Linked DNA regions of Homo sapiens. The gene in region 2 interacts genetically with the main gene of each other region. Each region holds a gene or a part of one and is shown on either strand. Other genes may lie near its edges.

Region 1 (8,478 bases), on a different chromosome or scaffold from region 2:
TCAAAGAGATTTGACATATGAGTGGTTTTATGTTTGCTATTGAAAAATTGACGGGCCTTTCAGGAAGTTCTGGAATGTACATTATGCAAGTTTTGTCTTCCTGGGCAAGAGTCTCCTGATTAATAGTAAATTGTAATAGTAAAGTTTTATAGTCAATAATAAAGTTGTGTTGATGAGGCCAGTGGAATAGAAAGTCATGTTAATATGTTAATATGGAGAGTAAACTGTGGACAATTTCCGTTCTCCTGGGTTTGAATCTTAGCTCTGTCACTTAATAGCTTTGGGATCTTGAGCAAGTCAGTCATCCTCTCTGTGAATCAGTTTCCTCATCTGTAAAATGGGCATACCAATACTACCTTCTCATGGAAATGAATTAATGTATACAACTGGCTTAGTACCTGACACATTTCCCCTCAGATCCTACCACACCTTCAACCTCATAGAATTTACCTTAGGAGAAATAAAGGCCTTAAGTGGTTGTTTTGGTTTTACATATGGACATATATTTGGCTGACATTTTCCATTTGTATTGTTTAAATTTATACAGTAAAGTCTGGCTACATAATTAACTCATTGACAATTGCATGTCTTTTAGATACTCTCAGCCCCTGCATGAAGAAATAGCATTGCATAAACACCTGAAGCACAAAAATATTGTCCAGTATCTGGGCTCTTTCAGTGAGAATGGTTTCATTAAAATCTTCATGGAGCAGGTCCCTGGAGGTAAGAGATATTTCTTTCTTTAAAAAGTGTGAATGTTTAGAGCTTCGGAGGGGAGTAAAATTGAATGGGATTTACTAGCGTACAGGTCTTAATCTGTCTAAACTGAAAGAAAAATTGGACATGTGACATTACCTCCAGTTTGTTAGGAGATGTCAACCATAAATGATGAGATTTAGAAAATATCCTAATGTATAGAGTTTATTCCAGTGCAAAGCTTGAGGATAGCCACCCAGGAAACACAGACTCCAAAAGAATGGGCCAGTGTTCCAAAGTGAGGAAGTTCATGTTTCACTTATATAAGCTGAAGACTAACAGGGTGGCAACATCTTCTACCCAAAGTCATTACATTTAAGTGGTTACAGCTTGCTGTATTCCAAGGCACATTATTTTAATGTTCCATAAGGAGGGGTAATGGTCTCGGGGGATCTTTTCTTTGGCACCATTCAGTCTTCTCCAATCATTTACAGGACAAAAATGCGGAAGAGATTTAGCCTATAATCGCAGAATCAGAAGTTACAACTGAATGCTATATGACTCAGGCCACAAAGTCACATTCCTTAAATAATAAGGCTCAAATAATTTAAAGTTCTAGAAGCTTTACATGTGAATTATGTAATTTCACAGAGACAATACATAAATATGGGAACCATTTCAGTATCTATCATCATGACTTGAATTAAAGTTGGCAATTGACATTGGCCTTTTACTTAGACATATTTGATTACAAGCATCTTTAGAGTAGGGATATTTGCAAATTCATGTTTGAGCCCGATATCCAGTATAGCTCCTGGGCCACTGTGAAGAACCAATGACTGTTAGCTTAAATTACTGTTACATTATTAATACACTTTAAAGAGCTCATTTGAATGAGGATTTATTTACTATTTATCCCTACTTTACAGGAAGTCTTTCTGCTCTCCTTCGTTCCAAATGGGGTCCATTAAAAGACAATGAGCAAACAATTGGCTTTTATACAAAGCAAATACTGGAAGGATTAAAATATCTCCATGACAATCAGATAGTTCACCGGGACATAAAGGTGAGGTACACCAGCATTCATTTTCATGAGTTCTTTCTTTGCTGGGTTATTATTTTACTTGCAAAAGTCATATTGTGTTATGAGTATTAATTTAGAATGGTGAATAAGTAAATCTTAGAAACAGCAGAAATATAAAATATCGTTCAACCCTGAATCAGTTATTTATGTTCATGTCTTAACGCTTCTGCTCAAGGAACACACTGCTTAACTGCGTTCAGCCAACAAGATTGTGCTCCCACCACACAATGTTTCCTAGGAGCTCTGTGGTGTGGGATGCAGCTGTCAAAAGTTAAACAGGAGATGGCCCCTGGTCCTGAGGAGCTTATAGGCTGGTTAATCTTTGTATCCTTGCCCATAGTAGCTACTCAGTAAATACTTATTGAATCAATGGATGAATGGTTAGAAGAAAAAAAATTCCTCTTTTCTCACAAGTATCACATATTCATTGATTTAACTATAATTATAAGGTATAGATTCTCTAAAATAAGCTAAAATAATAACTTTACATTCTCTTTTTAAAAAGAAAATTCAGAACTAATACATTTTTTACAAAGTCTGGACTGTTGAAAATAAGTTAATATTAGTACCCTAAAATCAACCAAAAAGCCCATTTATCTATCATGTCCCTACATATTCCAGGAAAAGAAGTAAAGAAACATAGAAAAGAAAGTAAGGTAACTGGAAAGTTATGAAAATCGTAATTTAATTATACATACATCATTATATATCTGTAAATAGCAACAAGCTCTAACCAATTAGGAATCATATTTGATCTTGTGATCTGAGTAGCAGATTATGAAGAACTTATAACCATCCAATGAGTTCATGTTGCCCACTGACCAGATAGAGCTGATTTCTCAAGATGTAAGAATTGCAATTGAGAAAGAGTTTAATACACATAGAGATGGCCAAACAAAATATTGGATCTTATAATTATTCAAATCAGCTTCTCCAAAAATTTAGAGGCTAGGGTTTTTCAAAGATAGTTTGGTGAGCAGGGGGCTAGGGTCTGGGTGGTTGGGGATGTAATTATAGGGGTGTGGAAAATGGTTCTTGTGTGTTGAGTCCACTTCTGGGTAGGGGCCACAGGACTGGTTGAGTCCAGAGTCACAGGTCTGGGTGATGCCATCTGATAGTCAGAAATGGAGAAGCCTGTAAAGACATCTCAAAAGGCCAGTCTTCAGTTCTACAATAGTGATGTCAATTATAGGAACAATTGGGGAAGTTGCAAATCTTGTGACCCCCAGAATAATGGGCTGATAATCATTTGACTGTGCCTACATCTTAGCGGACTTTAGGCCCCTCTCATCCTCCTAACCTGGTGGCCTTTCATTAGTTTTACAAAGATAGTTTAGTTTTGGGGAAGGGCTATTATCAACTAAACTATAAATTAAATTTCTCCAAGTGAGCTTGGTCTACACCCTGGAATGACCAAGGGCAGTTTGGAAATTTAAAGCAAGATGGTGGTGGTTAGATCAGATCTCTTTTACTGTCATAATTTTCTCACTGTTGTAATTTTCGCAAAGGCGGTTGGTTTCAAACTGATAATATGTAAACAAAAAATAGTGTCAAGAATGCACTATTGAGATAAACTATTAATGAAGAATACAGAATTAATGTCGTTGGTAGCTGTAAGGACACCTTTTTTTTTTTTAAATTGGACTTACCAAGTCAACAACAGACAGTATCTGAAGAAAGATAACAATTGTGATTAAAGTCCTCTGTTCTCTAGGGTGACAATGTGTTGATTAATACCTACAGTGGTGTTCTCAAGATCTCTGACTTCGGAACATCAAAGAGGCTTGCTGGCATAAACCCCTGTACTGAAACTTTTACTGGTATGTTTTTGCAATGATGATACAGATCTTATGTAATTAAAGAAATAATTGCTGAGTTTGAGCACAATGTGAGAGAGAAATTCAGTTGGTGTTCTCACACACAGTAATGTTGGTATCTTTTTTCTTTCTTTTCTTTTCTTTTCTTTCTTTTTTTTTTTTTTTTTTTTTTTTTTTGAGACAGGGTCTTGCCCTGTCACCTAGGCTGGAATGCAGTGGTGTGATCACCTATCACTGCAGCCTCAAACTCCCAGGCTCAAGCAATCCTCCCACCTCAGCCTCCTGAGTAGCTGGGACTACAGGCATGCGCCACCACGCCCAGCTAATTTTTTTGTATTTTTGATGGAGACAAGGTTTCACCATGTTGCCCAGGCTGGTCTCAAACTCCTGGGCTCAAGCGATATACCTGTGGCCTCCAAAAGTGTTGGGATTACAGGCGTGAGCCACTGCGCCTGGCCAATGTTGGTATCTTTTGATGCTCACTGAAAAATGTGTTACAGAATTTGATTTGGCCCTTTTCTCTTCCTGTATTTATATGACTTGCTTAGTTAGTCTCCTGCTTAATGCCACTGAAGATTTTTTTTTTTTTTTAATTCTCAACTTGTTACTTATTTTTCTTTTCATGTAATTACTTCTTTCCTGGTTGGCCTACAATAACTCTAGCAAGATTTTTTTTTTTTTTTTTTTATTAAACATTTCCTTGGCCCAACCTCTCTGTGATGCTTACTCATACCCTAATCACTTCCCATTTGGACGATGAATTCCCTCTTTTACTGTTTACTCTCTGTGGTTGACTCCCCTACTCCACAATATAAATAACCCTAGGATTTCAATTCAGAAGAGGAAGTGACTCACCGACTCAGAAGAAGGGAGGGAGAGAGCTTTCCTGAGAAAGTAGGCAACGCAACCACTGAGCTGCCTCTGGTGCAAAGTACTGGGAGGGTGGAGACCAAGTGATTTCCAAAAAGGTAACAGTAGCCAAGAGGAAGCTCAGACTCAAGAGATTCATGACTGCCCAACAGTTATAGGGAGGGTGTGTGAGACTTCAAACCTGATCTCCATTTAGTTCTTATCACTCCATCATGCTAATTCTCATGAAGTGTTAAGTTCTTCTTATAGAGAGAAATTTAGCAGGAAAAAAAAAAGGGTAAGGGGAAGGGAAGAGAAAAAGATCATGAATAATCTTTGGTCTAATATGAAGCAACATGGCCCCATCTCAATTCTGTGAGGTAGGTGGGAGTACCTCCATTTTGTAGATGAGGAAATTACCTGGGAGAGAAGTGACATTGCAGTCAGAAGTCACAGCAGTGTGTACCGGATAGAACTCAGACTGGTTTTTTGTTTTTGTTTTTGTTTTGAGACTGGGTCTTGCTATGTTGCCCAGGCTGGTCTTGAACTCCTGGGTTTAAGCAGTCCACCCACCCCACTCTCCTAAGTATCTAGGATGTCATGCCTGGCAAAACTGTTTTTTTGTTTTTGTTTTTTCTTTTGAGATGGGTTCTCGCTCTGTAACCCAGGCTGAAGTACAGTGGTGTAATCTCTGCTCACTGTGACCTCCCCTACCCCGGGCTCAAGTGATTCTCCTACCTCAGCCTCCCTAGTAGCTGGGACCATAGGCACGCACCTCCATGCCTGGCTAATTTTTTGTATTTTTGGTAGAGACAGGGTTTCACCATGTTGCCCAGGCTGGTCTCAAACTCCTGACCTCAAGTGATCCACCTGCCTTGGACTCCCAAAGTGCTGGGATTACATGTGCGAACCCCCACGCCTAGCCAGAACTCAGATTTTGTATCTACTGTTTGCTCTTTGCTTTTACCTTCTGGCTCTAGTCCATCTTTCTCTCTACCTTCCTGCAGGAGGAGAGAGAGACATTCTGTGTAAGTTTTTTCCCTAGAGCATTCAGTCAGCAATACCCCTGGCCCAGCTCCCACCTCAGGGCAATGGATATTTTAGGGTACAGAATTAAACACATTTTGAATATATTTTTTTGAAAAAACTAAATTCTGACCTATTAATAACTTCAAATGTCTTTACATTTCTTTCCTCTTACTCTTAACTTGGCAAGCAGCAGTTTCAGTGCTGTCAAGACTCAGTAATTTCTGAGAGGAAAATCCCTCGTTTCACACACTTTGTGGGACAGGATGTTAACACAGTATCTTCTGCTACTAATCTGGGGAACATCTTTTTTGTAAAATCTCCAAAGGAATTGTAGGAAAGCAGTCCTCACAGAGCCCTTTTCTTGGACCTCTTCCACTGGTGTCACGTAAGAGTGACGTGTGTCACTAACATGTATAGATCTGTCCCCAGCACCGGTCCCGAGGGCCCTGCACATCATAGGCTTCAAACGTGAACTTGGTGGTCACTAAGTCCCAGGTGGGTTAGTCCCAGGTGCTCAGTCAATAAATTGGTCTGCATCACCTTTTGGTGATTTTGATGAGGGAAAAGGCAGCAGTGATCACCATTTATGGAGTGCTTACTGTGTTACCTTGCTCTGCACTAAGTGCTTTACATATGTTGTTTTATTGAAATTCATACATCAGCCTTAATCATTAGGTATCATTATCCCAGTTTGTGGTGAGAAAATGAAGGTTCAAAGAGGTTGAATAACTTGCCCAAGGTCACAAAGCTAGTTGGTAATAGAGCTGAGACTCAAGCAAGACTTAACAGGCCAAAGGGAATTAATTATCTTCTCCCAAACCTGTCCCCGGCACACTCTTCTGTCCCAGTTGGCAGCCACTCCCGACATTGTTATCCAGGGCACTTCTCTTTTCTCACACTCCAACCCAGTCCGTCCACGAAGCCTTCAAAACATGTCCAACATTGGGCCGGTTCTCACCACCTCTGCTGCTGCCACTCTCATCGCTCACCTGCATTTTCGGTGGCTTCCCCAACTGTGCTCCTGCTTCACTTTTGCCCCCTACTGTCTACTCTCAGCACTGCAGCCAGAGTGATCCCTCTGAAACATAAACCAAGTCCTATTGCTCAGAGCCCTCAGTGGCTTGCTTTTTTTTTTTGTTCAGAGTAAACAAATGTCAGAACCCTCATAGTGGGGGACAAGGCTCTGACCTGATTCGGAGTCTGTTCCCTTTCAGACCCCATTTCCTACTCTTCTTCTGTTATTTACTCAGAGCCAGAAACGTGGACCTTCCTGCATTTCCTCCATGACAGCAGGCAGGGTCCCATCACAGGGCCTTTGCACAGGCTTTTCCTCCTGCCGCTACCCCAGCTGTCTGCATGGGTAACTTTCTTACCTTCTTCCAGTCTCAACGCAGATGTCCACCTCTGCAGTGAGACCAGCCATGAACACCCTATTTACCATGGCAGCCTTCCTGCTGATCCTCTTCACTCGGGTCTATATTTTTTTGGTCATAACATGTCACTTTCTAACATGCTGTATAATTTACTTACTGTGCTGATAATTTATCATCTGGCTTCTACTGCAAAAACATAAGCCCAGGTATTTCTATATGTTTTCTCCTCTGCTGTATTCTAAGTGCCTAGAACAGTGCCTGGCCCATAGTAGGTCCTCAGTGTGGATCTGTTAAATGAATGAGTGAATGAATGAAATGTGACATTAGAGTTTAATTAACCACTAAGCTGTACCACCTCCCTGGGTAGTTGCAGCAGCAAAGAAATTCTACAATAGATATTTCAAAGCAATTTTTTAAAAAAACTTTAGAATGCAGATATGTGAGGTATGAGTTTTAGAGCAAATACTCTCATTGATTTTACTTAAGCCAGTGTTCAGGTTGGCTCTCATCTTCATTATCCAGCTTCGTAAATTGCTTTGTTTAAAATATTATGTGTCATGTATTTGTGGAGTAAAAAGAGGAGCAGATAAGAACACATGACTCAACCTGTTTTTCTGGCACTTGCTCAGTGGGGGATAATTAAACACAATTGGCAGATGGTTATCTGACAAATCAAATATTGCATAATTTGTTGTTGACATTACTTGAATTGTCTAATTTACGATGTTTAAAAATTAAAAATTTCCAAATTTTGATCCACTATAACTCCCACTTAGCTATTAGTACAACTTAAATTCTCTCATTAATTCTATTCTAGGCCCCGAGACAACAAAAGGGGGTGGTAGGCTTCGATGCATTTTCGAAAAGACCATTTGAGCTTATTTAAATCATACAAAATTATCACTTGGGGAAAAGCTACAAATGAAGAGAAATCATACCAATTTTGTAGTAAAGGTGGGCGAGCGTCTTTGGGGAGCATGGTTGCCTTGTCTTTGGCCAGGTGAAAGGCTTTCTGAGAGCAGACATGTGCAGTTGTATGTTAGCGTGAACTACTGCTATGCAGTGATAAGGTCTGCAGGATAAACCTAGAAAGACTGCAATACATAACAAAAATGATACACTTTTATTTTTGTAAACAATAGTCCATTTCTCACCTATGATAGTGCTTTTCAGAGGAACAGTTTGCAGGAATTTTACACAATTGTTTTCACCTAAAACCATGCATGAGGCATTCCTAAAAGGTGTCATCTGTATTTATCAAAATGTCTGTCACTTTGGTTATGAATCAGAAAATCTGAAGCAGTTCTTTTGGCAAACACCTCATAATTTGAAGTAATTCAACATGGCATCTTGGATGAGTTCTTGTTTGCTGACTATATTATTTGTATATCAGAAGCAGGGTATGCGGTGATATGTTTCTATTCATGCTCCTGACTCATTGCTAGACTTTAGGAAACCACTTTATGGGGTATTCGAAGTTCAAATCCAGCCTCTCATTTAGGTTAATGAGGTAGTTGTACTTAAGTGTTTACCTGGGGTATACTAGGCCAGAAGCAGACTAAGGGCTCGTGGCCCCCTCCACTTAATTCTTTCTATTATACCACACTCTCCACCTCTCTGATTCCATGCA
Region 2 (6,240 bases):
GGTGAAGGGATATGAACAGACACCTCTCAAAAGAAGACATTTATGCGGCCAACAAACATGAAAAAAAAGCTTGTCATCACTGGTCTTTAGAGAAATGCAAATCAAAACCACGATGAGATACCATCTCACACCAGTTAGAATGGCAATCATTAAAAAGTCAGGAAACAACAGATGCTGCAGAGGATGTGGAGAAATAGGAACACATTTACACTGTTGGTGGGAGTATAAATTAGTTCCACCATTGTGGAAGACAGTGGGGCGATTCCTCAAGGATCTAGAACCAGAAATACCATTTGACCCAGCAGTCACATTACTGGGTATATACCCAAAGGATTATAAATCATTCTACTATAAAGACACATACACATGTATGTTTATTGCAGCACTATTTACAATAGCAGACTTGGAACCAACCCAAATGCCCATCAATGATAGACTGGATAAAGAAAATGTGGCATATATATACCATGGAATACTAGCAGCCATAAAAAAGAATGAGTTCATGTCCTTTGCAGGGACATGGATGAAGCTAGAAACCATCATTCTCAGCAAACTAACACAGAGACAGAAAACCAAACACCAAATGTTCTCACTCATAAGTAGGAGCTGAACACATGGACACAGGGAGGGGATTATCACACACTGGAGCCTGTCGAGGGGTGGGGGGTAAGGGGAGGGATAGCATTAGGAGAAATACCTAACGCATGCGGGGCTTAAAACCTAGATGACAGGTTGAAGGGTGCAGCAAACCACCATGGCACATGTGTACCTATGTAACAAACCCCCAAGTTCTGCACATGTATCCCAGAACTAAAAGTATAATAATAATCAAAAGGACACATTAAAAAAGAAAACTATTGGCCTACATCCCTGATGAACATTGATAAATACCCAAAAGAAAGGAAATTCATATATCAAAGAGATATCTGCACTCCCATGTTTATTGCGGCACTATTCACAATAGCCAAGATTTAGAAGCAACCTAAGTGTCCATCAACAGATGAATGGATAAATAACATGTAGTACATATATATAATGGAGTACTATTCAACCATAAAAAAGAATAAGATCCCGTCCTTTGGAAAAACATGGATAGAACTGGAGGACATTATGTTAAGTCAAATAAGACTGGCACAGATAGACAAACTTCAAATGTTCTCACTCCTTTGTGGGAGCCAAAAATTAAAACAGTTCAACACATGGAGATAGACAGTAGAATGATGGTTACCAGAAGCTGGAAAGAACAGTGGGGGCATGAGGGGAAGAAGTGTGATGGCTAATGGGTATTAAAATATAGCTAGATAGAATAAGATCTAGTATTTGATAGCACAACAGGGTGACTACAGTCAACAATAATTTATTGTACATTTTAAAATAACTATTACAAAGATATAACAGCCTGTTTGCATGAGCGTGGGAGGTGGGTGCCACACTATGTACAAATAATCTCAATGCAGTCATAGTTAGAATGTAGGGTAATTTAATCTGACAGTAACTCAGCATCTTCTCTTACCTTAAATAAGGTATTCTATTGAATTTTCATTGACAATCTGTCCACAGTGATGCCAATTATATGCTCTTACTTTAGCTTTTCTCTTTTGTGTTTTGAGACAGAGTCTCGCTCTGTCACCCAGGCTGGAGTGCAGTGGCGCAATCTCAGTTCACTGCAACCTCTGCCTCCCAGGTTCAAGCGATTCTCCTGCCTCAGCCTCCCAAGCAGCTGGGACTACAGGCGTGTGCCACCACGCCCAGCTAATTTTTTTTGTATTTTTAGTAGAGACAGGGTTTCACCGTATTGGCCAGGCTGCTCTTGAAGTCCTGACCTCGTGATCCTCTTGCCTCGGCCTCCCAAAATGCTGAGATTACAGGCCACCGCACCCAGCCGGCTTTTCATTTCTTGAAGAGACGGGAACAACAAATCTTCATAGATCTAAACTAACTTACATTTTAAAATATAAAATTGTGTGTCTTCCCAACATTTTTTTTTTTTTTTTGAGTCAGAGTCTCACTCTGTCAACTAGAAGTGCAGTGGTGCTATCTCGGCTCACTGCCACCTCCACCTCCCAGGGTCAAGCAATTCTCCTACCTCAGCCTCCTAAGAAGCTGGGATTACAGGCACCCACCACCATGCCCGGGTAATTTTTGTATTTTTAGTGATGGGGTTTTGCCATGTTGGCCAGGCTGGTCTTGAACTCCTGGCCTCAAGTGATCCATCTCCTTGGCCTCCCAAAATGTTGGGATTACAGGCATGAGCCACTGCGCCTGGCCACCAACAGATTTTTTAATTCAGAATTTGACAGCAAATAAGTGTTACATCTTTTAAAACAAATAGCTTCAAAGAAATATATTAATGGGAAAATATTAAACATATCATTTTTATTAAAGTATATCAACACCTAGAAACAATAAAGGGTACATGATGAATATGTATAAAAACAAGTAACTCAAAGCTTTACTTGAAATAGAAAAGTCTAACTATAAGTTATTTTTTGTGTGCATCAATTGAAACAAACCATAAGTTTGTTGATTATAATGTCATTTTATGCATTGCAAGAATATACAACTTCAAAGTCTTCTGGTTTAAATTCCTAAATAACTACAGGGTAACTAAATATGTTCAGGATCCTTCAGGCAGAAAAATCAACTATTTAGAGTCACCTGGAACAAATAAATAAGTAATCATGCCACATTTCTGTTGTTTTTAAATTTATCATGGTTTTGCTTATAAAGGTATTGACTCATTAGGTTAACTCTGTAAGATTATAAGATGATATTCTGATTTATACTTGCTACATTTATGACTACTTGGAGAAACAACACTTGAAGGGGACCTTCTATATACATTTGAACAATCTGAGTTACAAATAATCATGCTGACAAATTCAGGTTTCCCCACTACCACTGAAATTATCAGAGTCTAAGCTGAAAAAAAAAAATCCAAGTATTGTATTCATACATTTTAATCAAGGTTCAATAGGGAAGAAGGGAAGAAAAAGTAAAATTGCAAACAAAATGTTAAATACTGTACTCCACTTCCTCTGAAATATTTGTCTTTTGAATTAGTATACTGGTCTAAATTTTGCCTCCAAAAATCTAAGAAGAATATTGTTTGGGTTTTTCAAAAATCTACATACTTCTTGAGTGTTCTATTCAAATTTTATGTAATCAGAAACCTATTTTAAGGCATAAAATTAGAAAAAAATTTAAAAATTATTAACTTCAATTAACCTCAAATAAATAGAATTGTATTGTATGCTCCACTGCCTTTGTTCTACTCAGCTTTTTCAGTTTGCGGTTTAAAGCCTCCATATTTCTTTTCAATGTTTAAAAAGACATGCTGTTTTCATTTTCCCTTTCCTTTAAAAAATGGCAGAATAATCTATTGAAAAACAAAGAGGCAAAAACTCCTTGAACTATTTTTCCTCTCCTTTAAAACAGACCTATATTTGGTGTATGTATCTTTTAAGTTTGCAGTATGTGAGAAAGAGGACCGTAATCATAAAGTTCTTTTTTTAAAATAACTAGGAATGACAGAGTGATTTATCCCCATGGGAAGTGCAATAAACATATTGTATAGTATATATGACCTTATGCTTTACTTGGTGCCCCTAAAAGACTGAATTATATTCATTGATCTATTTTAATACAGCAAACTACAATTTAACGTTAAAACAAATTTGATGCTCAAAGCACTTCTGTAGAAGATACAAAAGATAAATGTTTGAATCTTACCCAGATCACTATAGGCAACAACTAAGCATATAAACTACAGACATAAATAATACACAATCCAGGCCAGGTGTAGTGGCTAACACCGTAATCCCAGCACTTTGGGAGACCAAGGCGTGTGGATCACTTGCGGTCAGGAGTTCGAGACCAGCCTGACCAACATGGTTGAACCCTGTCTCTACCAAAAAAAAATACAAAATTTGCTGGGCATGGTGGCACATGCCTATAATCCCAGCTACTTGGGAGGCTGATACAGGAGAATCGCTTGAAGCTGGGAGGCAGAGGTTGCAGTGAGCCAAGATCACGCCACTGCACTCCAGCCTGGGCAATAAGAGCAAAACTCTGTCTCAAATAATAATAATATCATTAAGAGCAAAACTCCATCTCAAAAATAATAATAATACATGAGCCATTATGAACAAATTCTATCAAGGCTTCATGTGACATTTAATGGCTGAAAACTAAACAGGATTTAGCAAAATAAAATGTATTTAAATACATCCTTTCTTATGAAAGGAGAAGGCTTATCCAGTGATACTGACCATAGAGAGAACCTATACATCAGTCTCATATTTAAGAGGGTTCTGCCTGCCTTGGTTGGCTTCAAAGAGCTCACTGTACGTTGATTATATTTAGACTGCTTCTTAGCAGAAGCAAAGAGTTTATAACAGTTCATAACATCACAAGTGATGGCATCTTGTCACGGTGTAAGCAATCTCAAAACATAACTTGCATTTATCACTTCTACTTTTTGCTCATGACAGCATATGAAAGCCTGCCTTCTCAAATGCACAGATGTGTTCAATATGCACTTTCCATCTATGCTTGCTCTTTATAATGTATATTTAAGAAGAGCTCAAGACTTTTAAAAATAAAACCTACATGGCAATGATATCTTCTAAGTCATGAAAAACTATGTGGAAACTATCAGGCCAGGCGTGGTGGCTGATGCCTGTAATCCTAGCACTTGGGAGGCTAAGGCGGGAGGATCACTTAAGCCTAGGAGTTTGAGATCAGCCTGGGCAACATGGCAAGACTCCTGTCTCTACAAAAATAAAAATAAAATTAGCCAGATGTGGTGGCGCACAGCTGTAGTCTCAGCTACTCAGGAGACTGAGGTGGGAGGACTGCTTGAGCCCAGGAGGTAGAGGCTGCAGTGCGTTGTGTTCATGCCACTCCACTCTAGCCTAGGTGACAGAGCAAGACCCTGTCTCGAAAAAAAAAAAAAAGAAAAGAAAAAAGAAACTGTCTTAATTAATTAATTTTAAGTATACCATATTCTGAAGAAAAAATCAAAATCTTTAAGCAAATTTATAATGTACAGAGCTCAGTTCTTCAAATACGGAGACATTAAAGAAAAAAGAACCTATTCAAAGGCCAAAGATAAAACTGTAAATGATTGTGGGTCTCCTAAAAGTATATTTAAAGTTTCTTACAAAACCATAACCCTTCTCCCCTAAAAAATATGTTCTCTGGTAGAATACTGAAGTAGAAAACAGACCACTAAACAATGATCTTGCAGTATCAAACATTTTCTCAAAAAATTATGACATAGGATCAAAAAAACAGAATGCTAGGCACCCAAGATAAAAAGCACAAAATGTAAGAGAATAGATCACCTGTTCAAAGAACCAAAGCTCACAATAACGTATGACAGAACACCTATACATTAAAAAAAAAAAGAAAGAAATGCCGATAACAGAATTGAAAAAAACAAAATGAGGTCGGATGCAGTGGCTCACGCCTGTAATCCCAGTATTTAGAGAGGCCAAGGTGGGTGGATCACCTGAGGTCAGGAGTTCGAGACTGCCTGGCCTATGTGGTGAGACTCCATCTCTACTAAAAACACAAAAATTAGCTGGGCATGGTGGCAGGCACCTATAATCCCAGCTATATGGGAGGCTGGGGCAGGAGAATCGCTTGAACCCGGGAGGCAGAGGTTGCAGTGAGCTGAGATTGCGCCATTGCACTCCAGCCTGGGTGACAAGAGCCAAACTCCATCTAAAAAAAGAAAAAAAAAGAAGAAGACAAAATGAAAAGTGTATATTTTTCATAAGAGAACATAAGAATTTTGTGAATATTGTAGCCACTGTGTAAATATTGTATAAACCTTCAGATACTGGTTATCTCTTTTGGGAGATTTAAGGTATTCATTTTTAATCTTAAAAAGATTCTTTAAAAAGAAATATACTTCCCTTTGAAATAGTAAGTTAAGTAGCATTTCAAGTTTTTCTTTCATAAAAACAGTTGCTGGAACAGAAAAATAGGCTTCATTAAATGATTCTCTCCATGCTCTAAATACACATTTTAAATTTAAACCTTTTTCTTCTACAGAAAGCAATGATTACTAACACTTTGTTATTTTCCCTTAGCAATTTAAAAAAGCATTTAATCACACATTATAATAACAAAGAGAAAGTAATGACATTTGAAATTTACTTATACAGTAGGTCAGGACAATCAAATTGACCTCCATTTATGCATAAAAAAGGCAAGAGAAAAAAGGGAGTT

Evidence for each region. Genes that interact genetically often act in the same process or in processes that back each other up.
Region 1: of DUSP19 (region 2) and MAP3K5, changing one enhances a phenotype caused by changing the other (phenotypic enhancement), as found in Homo sapiens cells (one study listed by BioGRID).

Annotation. Positions count from the first base shown.
Region 1 is NC_000006.12:136,606,404-136,614,881, reverse strand, and holds part of MAP3K5 (mitogen-activated protein kinase kinase kinase 5), read left to right. Parts: intron 1-595; coding exon 596-723; intron 724-1,625; coding exon 1,626-1,762; intron 1,763-3,494; coding exon 3,495-3,600; intron 3,601-8,478. UniProt on the Homo sapiens protein: Serine/threonine kinase which acts as an essential component of the MAP kinase signal transduction pathway. Plays an important role in the cascades of cellular responses evoked by changes in the environment.
Region 2 is NC_000002.12:183,095,747-183,101,986, reverse strand, and holds the end of DUSP19 (dual specificity protein phosphatase 19), read right to left. Parts: 3' UTR 1,979-6,240; downstream 1-1,978.